Linked DNA regions of Homo sapiens: region 1 is linked to region 2. A link means that fine-mapping ties the variant in region 2 to the expression of a gene that starts in the linked region. Tissue or cell type: whole blood. Region 2 holds a variant in brackets; the other region holds the start of a gene. All regions are shown on one strand. Distances are from middle to middle.

Region 1 (5,287 bases), 78 kb before region 2:
TGTTTCTGAGATTTCTTAGAGGGTATAAAGTTGAGTGGGTTGTGAATGAGGAGTGGGGAACAGGTGAGACCTGGGAAAAGACTTATTTATTCGTGCATATAACAATGATTTCACTTATATGTGAGTCACTGAGCTGGGCTCTGAAATACAAGCAGAGAAAAAGATAAACGTGGTCTTTGCCTTTGAGATACTTACAGTTTGGTGGGAAAAGCAGAAAGGACAAAGGAGTTTAGAGCAATCTGGGTAAACAGAGGAAAGTGAGCTATTCTTGCAAGGGACCACTAACTCTTTTCAGATAAGTCAGAGAAGGTTCCTGGAGGAAAAATTGGTTAAAGCTGAGATTGTAAGGAAGATAAACATCAAAGAAGAGAGAAGAGTGTTCGTAAGGGAAGAAATTGCATGGGGGAAGAGCTCAGAATTGAGAGAAGGCAAGCATGGAGTATTTAAGGAAAAGAAAGTCCGGGCATGGTGGCTCACACCTGTAATCCCAGCACTTTGGGAGGCCAAGGTGGCGGATCATCTGAGGTCTGGAGTTCGAGACCAGCCTGACCAACATGGTGAAAACCCATCTCTACTAAAAATAAAAAAATTAGCTGGGCATGGTGGCACATGCCTGTAATCCCAGCTGCTCAGGAGGCTGAGGCAGGAGAATTGCTTGAACCCGGGAGGCAGAGGTTGCAGTGAGCCAAGATCGCGCCACTGCACTCCAGCCTGGGCGACACAGTGAGACTCCATCTCCAAAAAATAAATAAATAAATAAATAAATAAAAGGAAAAGAAAATAGTGTATAGGTAAAATATTTATCTTAAGTCCAGGACTCCTAATTTATGGGTTATTATTCCAATTTAGGCATCGATAGGAGGCTATGAGTATACACTACTCTTTCAAGAAAATGGTGAAAGGGGAAAAGAGCCCTCAGTTTTGTTAAATTTTATAAGAGGCAATTGATTTGGTCTGACCTCCTCCACTAGGCCCCAGCAGGCCAGGCCAAATCAGAACTGAGTTACTTGTGCTAAGTGCCATGTAATCAAACTGAACTTTGAAACAAGCCCATCTTCCAGAAAACGGGAGATTCCAGTCAATCTGAGTAAATATAATAAGGAAGTCTTCTCTGTTTTAACCCTACAAGGAAAGTAACTTTGAAATGATCAATTTGCAGGGCCGGGTGCGGTGGCTCATGGCTGTAATCACAGCACTTTGGGAGGCCCAGGCGGGAAAATCACTTGAGATCAGGAGTTCAAGACTAGTCTGGCCAACATGGCAAAACCCTGTCTCTACTAGAAATACAAAAATTAGCCGGGCATGGTGGTGCACGCCTGTGATCCAGGTACTAGGGAGGCTGACACACAAGAATCACTTTAACTCAGGAGATGGAAGTTGAGATCGCACCAGGACACTCCAGCCTGGACGACAGAGTAAGACTGTCTCAAAAAAAAAAAGAAAAAAAAAAGGACGATCAATTTGCTTTTTGTTCAAATCTCTTTCTGCATTCTTTAGCCCCTTTTCTGCCTATGAAGCTAACCTTGTCTGCTCAGCTCATTGGAACATTCAATCTTATAGAATGAGATGCTGCCTGATTCTAGAATTGTAAACAAAAGCCAATTAGATCTTTAAGCTAAATCTTAATTTTGTAATTTTGTCTTTAGACAGTCTCTTTTTTGTGGTCCTGCAGTTGTGGCAGTTATGTAGTTATCTGCATGCATCAGAATATTACAATATTTTCATCCTCATCTTTAATTTCTACTTTTCATATTTTTAAAATGTAGACATTCAAGTTTATTTATTTATTTATTAAAACCATTTTGTAGGCCGGGCACGGTGGCTCACGCCTGTAATCCCAGCACTTTGGGAGGCCCAGGCAGGCGGATCACGAGGCCAGGAGATCGAGACCATCCTGGCTAACACGGTGAAACCCCGTCTCTACTAAAAATACAAAAAATTAGCCGGGCGTGGTAGCGGGCGCCTGTAGTCCCAGCTACTTGGGAGGCTGAGGCAGGAGAATGGCGTGAACCCGGGAGGCGGAGCTTGCAGTGAGCCGAGATGGCGCCACCGCACTCCAGCCTGGGCAACAGAGCGAGACTCCGTCTCAAAAAAAAAAAAACAAAACCATTTTGTAGAGACAAGGTCTCCACTGTGTTGCCCAGGTGGGTCTTGAACTCCTTGCCTCAAGTAATCCTCCCATCTTGGCCTCCCAAAGCAGTGGGATTACAGGGGCATGCCACCCCACCCTCTCCAAGACATTGAATTTTATTTATTTTTTTTTTTGAGACGGAGTTTCGCTCTCGTTGCCCAGGCTGGAGTGCAATGGCACGATCTTGGCTCACCACAACCTCCACCTTCTGGGTTCAAGCGATTCTCCTGCCTTAGTCTCCCGGGTAGCTGCGATTACAGGCTGCACCACCACACCCAGCTAATTTTGTATTTTTAGTAGAGACAGGGTTTCTCTGTTGGTAAGGCTGGTCTCGAACTCCCGACCTCAGGTGATCCTCCTGCCTCGGCCTACCAAAGTGCTGGGATTACAGGCGTGAGCCACTGAGCCCAGACGAATTTTTTTTTTTAAAAGGCAAGGTCTAGCTCTGTTGCCCAGGCTGGACTGCAGTGGCAAGAACATGGCCAACTGCAGCCTTGACCTCTCAGGCTCAAGCAATTCTCCCACCTCAGCCCCCCAACTACCTGGGCCTACAGACATGTGCCACCATGCCTCGCTAATTAAAAAAAAATTTTTTTTGTAGAGACAGTGTCTCCCTATGTTGCCCAGGCTGGTCTCAAACTCCTGGCCTCAAGTGATCCGTCTCAGCCTCCCAAAGTGCTGGGACTACAGGCGTAAGCCACCGCTCCCGGCCAACATTTAAATTTTTGAATATTTTTTCTGTTCCCTTAGGGTTTACCAAGCACATTTATCGACAAGCCTCCTCAGGAAATTGCCCAAAATAGCCACATGTGGCAAGCCTCATTGACAGGCCAAAAGCCTCAGTCAACATGGCCGCGACCGGCTTCCATTGCCCTTCACTGCCCGCAGTAAGGATGGCTCCGGTGACTTCCTTCGAACCTCACATTTCCCATAAAAAAGATGGCGCCATTGCTTCCGCGTTCCGGTTGCGGATGGTGAGTGTGTCGGGGGGCTTGGCGGCTTTTCTCCTCAGTTTTCTGGAGTGCTTTGGAGGAGAGGTAAGCGCGGGATGGGATGGGGGGGGGTTGGAGTGGTGGGGGCGGGGGTCACAGCAATGCATCTGATCGTTCTCTCTCAATTAGGAAGTTATGGAGGCTTTCCTAGGCATGTCAGGATTTCCTGCTAGCTCCCCGCCCCTTCCGCCCCAACACACGGTGTCTGCAGCCTGTGCTTTGGGGAATTTTGGGAATTTGTGGATAGTGAGTATGGATAAGCTTCGGTTTTGTTGTTTTTTTTTAAATTTTTTCAGTGACCTGCCACTTCAGGAGGTTCTGCTAAAAAACCAACAAACAAAAAAACAGCTTTCTTGGGAAATTTCTATTCACCTACTAAGTAAAATTTGCCCATTTAAAGCGTAAAAAAAAATCAAGCCTAGCATAGTGGCATTCGCCTGTAGTTCCAGCTGCTCAGGAGACTGAGGTGGGAGAATCGCTTGTGCCCCGGAGTTCCAGGCTGCAGTGAGCCCAGATCGCGCCACTGCACTCCAGCCTGGAAGACAGAGCAAGACAACGTACCCAAAAATAAATAATAAAGGGTAACATTAAGGGTTTTTTTGTTGTTGTTGACAGAATTGTGCATCTATTACTGTGATCTCATTTTAGAATACTTTCATCACTCCAAAGAAAAATCCTGCCTCCAGTAGCAGTCATTCTACATTCACCACGTCCACTCCGCCTCAAGTCCTAGACAATTGCTAGTATACTTTCTGTCTGTATAGCCTTGCCAATTCGCACGTTTGATATAAATGAAATCATACAGTGCAGCTGGCTTCTTTCATTAAGTATAATGTCAATGTTTTTGTGACTAGCTTCTTTCATGACTTTTGTTCTTTTTTTAAACGGAGTCTCATGACTCTCACTCTGTAGCCCAGGCTGGAGTATAGTGGCACGATCTTGGCTCACTGCAACCTCTGCTGCCCAGGTTCAAGCTAGTCTCCTGCCTGAGCCTCCCGAGTAGCTGGGACTACAGGCGCCTGCCACCACGTTCGACTAATTTTTGTATTTTTAGTAGAGACGAGGTTTCACCATCTTGGCCAGGCTGGTCTTGAACTCCTCAGCTCTTGATCAACCTGCCTCAGCCTCTCAAAGTGCTGAGATTACAGGTGTGAGCCACCACGCCCGGCTATCTTCTTATACTATGTATAATATTTTCAAAGCTTGTCTTTGTATCATGTGTCAGACTGTTAGCAAATAAATAAAACTCTGTAAACTATTTTAAAGCGGTTTATTCTGAGCCAGTATGATTGACCATCGCCCAGAGAGAAAACACAAACCCAAAAAGTCTTTAGTAAGTGATCCCGAGGCAGTTGGGTTATAGTTTGTTTTTTTTACATTTTAGGGAGACAGGAGTTAACAGGCAAAGACATAAATCAATACATGGAAGGTATACATTGGTTAGACCCAAAAAGGTGGATATGTCCAAGGGTGGTCTTAGAAGTCTTAGGTGGATTTTAGGGATTCTTTAGCTGACAGTTGCTTGAGAGAGTTAAGCTTTGTCTAAAGACTTGAAGTCAGTAGAAAAGAATGCTTGAACTAAGATAAGGGAGTTGTGTGGTTCAAGGTCCTTGTTACGTAGATGAAGTGTGAGTAGCAGCCTCAGAGAATAGATGGGCTAGGTGCCATGACTAGAGATGGGCTGGGCTCCATGGCTCACACCTGTAATCTCAACGCTTTGTGAGGCCGTGGCAGGCAGATCACTTGAGGTCAGGAGTTCAAGACCAGCCTGGCCAACATGATGAAACACCATCTCTACGAAAAATAAAAAAATTAGCCAGGCACGGTGGCGTGCGCCTGTAATCCCAGCTACTTGGAAGGCTGAGACACAAGAATTGCTTGAACCCAGGAGACAAAGGTTGCAGTGAGCTGAGATCGCACTACTGCACTCTAGCCTGGATGACAGAGTGAGACTCCATCTCAAAAAAAAAAAAAACAAAAAAGAGAGAATAGATGGTAAATGTCTCTTTTTGGAAATTTAGGTGTCAGAATTAATCTTTCCTGGATCTGGGAAAGGCCTAGAAAAGGAAATCCTGGCTGCATTAATGGAGATTCTCTACAGATGCAAATTTCTGTTACAAAAGACAGCTTTGTAGCTTTGTAGGGCCATTTTAAAATATGTCAA
Region 2 (5,000 bases):
TCCTGTCTTTACATATGTGGGACCCAGCATGAGGCTATTCAGAAACAACAGAATCAGGTCGAGGCCAGTCAATACAGTCGGTAGCTGTTATTGAATGCCCACTGGGTGGCTGCAGGCTCCTGGCTGACCACGTTTCTAAGAGCTGGTTAATGGAGTCCTCGTTACAGTCTTGGTTAAGCTAGCACATTTAACAGCCCGCAGTGCAAATGAAAAATACATAGGTCTGACTAGGGAGCATTTTCCCTTTCTGTCTTTTTCCGTAAAGAGAGGAAAGTGATTGCTCTGGAAGTTTCTGACATTAATAGCCATGTTGGCATGTGGCTGTAAGACAACCTGAGTTAAGATGGTGATATGCCACTTAAAATAACAAGGCCGGCACAGTGGCTCATGCCTGTAATCCCAGTGCTTTGGGAGGCCAAGGTGGGAGGCTGGGCTTAAGCCCAGGAGATCAAGGCTGTAGTGAGCTATGATTGTGCCATTGCGCTCCTGCCTGGGTGACAGAGCAGAACCCTGTCTCTAAAAGAAAAAAGTAATAGGGTGTGCTGTGCTATTGTTACATTTATAAACCACTCCTTATTTTCCAGAGCATGGTTGTTTTTATGATCTTATCTGCTGCAAGAGACCTTAAATGATATTGATCAATATTTTCCTGACAGTGTAAGTTTTCATTCTCAGAACTGAGTATTATGCAACTGACGACATGGGGAGTGGGGCTTGAATTTTCTGGACCACTCAGGGTTGGGATGTGAGTGCCACTGGAGAGCCCCTTGGCCCACAGGAAGGAAGGGCTGCACATGGGTATAGGGCCACACGGAGGTACTGTATGAGTGGTGGGAGGCCAGCTGGCATCAAGCACTGTTCTCTACCATCAGTGGGTGTGAATACGACTGCAGGTTATTTTTCTGTGCTGTTCAGGTTTTGCTTTTATTTCTCTTTTGTTGGTCTGATCAAGCTGTTTATTGTTTGCAGATGGTAACAAAATATAATTAAGTTGTTTGTTGTTGAAGCTCCTGTAGGAAAAAATTATCTAGTTTTATCAACTCTGTAACCACAGCCCTCCTTTTCCCATATTGAAATAGCTATTTATATGATTTTTTTATAATGTGAAGTTCTTAGGAACATAGTTATTATAGCAGAGCTAATTGTAATATGTTTGAATGCAAGGATCCAAATCATTGAGGATTACTGCCATTCTGATACCTGTACAAAATTATGCACTGTCAAAAAAAAAAAAAAGAAAAAGATTATGCATTGTCATTGAGGCAGTTTGTATAGGATAGCAAGATCTTCTCCAAGTGGCTTTCCTTTGACAGTCCTCACAGATGGCTTTCCTGTGAGTTGCCATCACAGTCCCTTGCCTCCCCCAACATCTCCAGCTCTGAAGTCCTCCTCCTTGACCTCAATCGGAGTAGTCAGTTCAGTGCAGTAGTTGAGAATATGACTCTGGTACCGGACTCTCCTGGGTTTGAATCTGAACTTCACCACTTACTAGTTTGGGATGTTGACCAAGTCACTTGGCCTCTCTGTGCCTCAGTTTCCTCATCTGTTAAATACGATGCCTCATACAGAATCTGCATGGGTTAAATGAATTCTGTGAAAGCCTGGGGAAGAGGGCCTGGCACGCATAGGTTTCACGTAAGTGCTGTGGTCTGTGGCTAGTCTGTCATCGCCCCTCCCTCATATCCCCCCCTTCACCACATCACCACCTACCATCCCCCAGTCCCCTCTTTCTCCCAGACCCTCCCTCTCTGCATTTGCCCCTAATGCCGTCAGTAGCCCCCACTCCCACCCCATTTCCTTGCTGCTTGACTGTATCAGCTCAAGTCCTGGTGGAGAAGAGATGAAACAGTCCAACCAGGTAAAGTGAGGAGAGCTTAATGAAGAGCTTATGTACAAAGGCATGAGTGGGCGTGGCACCCACAGGGAAAGCACAGAGCCTGGGGCCCGCCACCATGAGAGCGTGTGCTCGCAGCAGCTGTGTGGAGGGGCTGTCTTGATGCGAGCTGTGGGCCTGCTGGAGGGATGCCGCCAGCCCAGGAAGGGATCCAAGGATGTAAATAGTCCAACCTTGCCTCCTCCCTCCTTCCACCTCCTGCCAGGCCTCCTCTTGGCTCCCAACCCGAAGCTGGAGGGCAAGGGCAGCCATCAGCCATAGTCCACGTAGTCCGCCTCCCAAGGGCAGAGCAGGGTGGAGACGGGGAGAGCAGATATAGACCAGAGGTCAAGTGGAAGAGCTCTGCACAGTGCCCTATGGCACCCCCAGTCTGCAGCCCCCACCCAGCCTGGAGTCATGGGCCCCCGCAGTCTGGCCCACCTGCCTTCACCCACAGGCCCCCCATCTCTGTCCCCATACCCTCCTCCCCTGCCATTCTGCCAGTCTGCAGCCTGCTCACCAAATACACAATGACCTTTGCACTTCTTTTCAACTTTTCACACCTCTTCCCTTTCCCAGGAGTGCCTTTCCCTCCTAGGCCTGGAGAAATGCTATATAGTCTTAGGATCCAGCCTGAATCCCCTTGCTCTCTGCAGATTTCCCTTGCCTCCAGTTAGCTTCCCTTACGGCTGATTCGACACGTACTTCATTACAGTGCGTACTTCACTAGGGTGCACTTCATGCTGTGGTCTTGCCAGTTATTTGTGGACCACTTCCTCTATAGACCAGATCATTCACTCTTGTGGGTAGAAACTACACCATGGTCATCTCTGCATTCCTTTGTGGTACCTCCAAGTAGTTGAAATAAAAACAAGTGCTCAAAAAATTAGTTGCATTGAAATGACTGATGCAAAGATACGATGAATATCATTTACTTGGTTAAAGGTGGTGTTAGTTATAAAGAGTAGAGTCAGCATATTCAACACTGATTAACTATATTGCATGTTGTATGTAACCAAGTCACTCCCT[A/G]ACTTGCCTCCCCCCAACATACATCTAGATTTAGTCACTGTCATCTCCTCTGGGGACACCCTTTGTGTCACTTATTAGAATTTATCTGTATAATTATTTATCCTGGGTTCTACCTCCTCTTCTAGATCTTTAACTCCGTAAGGGCAGGGGCCATATCTGTGCTAGTCATCACAGAGTCTCTAGACCTTAGAACAGTGTGATAGGTCTTTCATAGCTGTTTGTTGAATGAATAAATATGTTGGTCATAATACATTATAACATATCGTAACCTTAAAGGCCTGCAGAATGGGGACTCTAGGTGCCATGGAAGGGCCTATGAAGTTCCTTTCCATGCCCCTCAAACCATTTCCTGCTGCTGGAAGGAGTCATTTCTTGATGACTCCATTCCCACATCATTAGAGCAGCCACCCTTTCCACTTGCATGGAAGTAGGTCTTGTACCAAGAAGAACAAATTTCCTTTTCCTTCTGTCACCATAAGGAATATAGTAATATTGGGGGAATTATTCTTTTTCTGCAATTCTTTTGCTTCGCATTTCACTGTCCTTATTGTGCTGATTTGCAGTTTCTTAAATTGATGGTGCCAAGTAAAATATATTTGATTGTAGTTTGTACCATTTCAAATCGATTTAGTAATTTTGAAGATGTGTAATAGGCATTATCAGGTCTTAAAATTGAAAATTGGCATGATTTTATGTCATTTTATATCATTTCACTAATGTGATAGTCTAGCCAGATTCTATTATTATTGTCATTATTATTATTTTGAGATAGGATCTCTCTTTGTTACCCAGGCTGGAGTACAGTGGTGCAATGTTGGCTCACTGCAGCCTCAACATCCCCAGGCTCAGGTGATTCTCCCACCTCAGCCTCCTGAGTAGCCGAGACTACAGGCATGCACCACCATGCCTGGCTCATTTTTTGAATTATTTTTGTAGAGACAGAGTCTCACTATGTTGCCCAGGCTGGTCTCAACTCCTGGGCTCAATCTATCTGCCCGCCTTGGCCTCCCAAAGTGCTGGGATTACAGGTGTGAGCCATCATGCCCAGCCAGATTTTATTATTAATTAATGAGTTCAGGGAGTTCTTTTTAAAGGTCACAAATGATGTTTAATAACATGAAAAAAGATTATCTTTTGGAAACAGAAAGTAGCAACATAGCCTACAAGCCTTAATTTATTTAAGCCCTACTATTACTCACTAATCTTTTTATTTGAGGTTTAACATTCTGACCAATATGTTCTGGAAAGGAAATTAAACTCAACATTTGAGATAACAGAGCTCTTATGAAGCTTATATACTGGAGATATTGGAAAAAGATACTAATCTCCCTCTCCCCTCAAAAAGCAAGAAAGCAATTAGTCTGGAGGGACTGTCTAAATAGGATTGTCTAAAGGAAAACCTGCAAAAAAATTGGGCAGATGGTCTTTATAAACTTAGAGAAGATTAACTCCGCAGCCATGTTGTAACAGGTTTTTACGGATGCATTTGTTGCAAATTAATTGCCTCTTTTCGGCCTTAATAACCTAAATTTAAGTTTGGGGGTTTGCATAGAAGCAATTCAAAGCTCAATACTGTCATGTTTTTCATTAATTTACCAGTGAGTGGTTGGGTTTGTATGAATAATTTGATTTATTTTGAAGTTAAATGTAATTATAAGTTGTGTTTTGCTAGGCAGCTTGTCCTTTATAATAGAATTTGCCTTGAACTACAATATAATTTATTCTACCCTTCTTGGTTAACAGCCTCTTCTTTAGGAAAAAAAAACACAGGCAATATCTGTGAAGATAATATTTTTAAGGTAGATGCAATAGAATGGTTTGGGAGTCTTTCAGTCTTGGGTGATAGAAGATCAGATTTGGTACAGATCTGGTATAGAACCCCATCATTAGGACTAAAAGCAGGCAAAAGCAGAACTGGGCCCTCAGTTCTCAGATAAGCTGTTATACCTATTTGCAGTTTCTTCAAAAGTGAGCATACATAGACAGTTCTACTCCCAGGTAAGTACCTAAGAGAAATGCATCCGTATGTTCATGGAGAGACATGCACTGAAATAGTCACAGCAACACTCATAACGGCCCTAACTAGAAACTCTATACA

What was found. PIP is the estimated chance that this variant, and not a neighbour inherited with it, causes the effect.
Region 1: it holds the start of SHLD1, and the variant in region 2 is fine-mapped to the expression of SHLD1 in whole blood (INTERVAL, PIP above 0.99).

The regions. Positions count from the first base shown.
Region 1 is chr20:5,747,312-5,752,598 of GRCh38, forward strand. SHLD1 (shieldin complex subunit 1) reads left to right here and starts at 3,090. Exons shown (of 3, transcript NM_152504.4): 1 at 3,090-3,168. RefSeq lists an enhancer at 2,916-2,965.
Region 2 is chr20:5,825,224-5,830,223 of GRCh38, forward strand. All of the region lies in intron 2 of SHLD1 (shieldin complex subunit 1), which reads left to right. Among named protein-coding and RNA genes, the nearest start is that of SHLD1, 77 kb to the left of the region's middle. RefSeq lists an enhancer at 1,630-2,131. The variant A/G (reference allele first, on the strand shown) is at 2,903.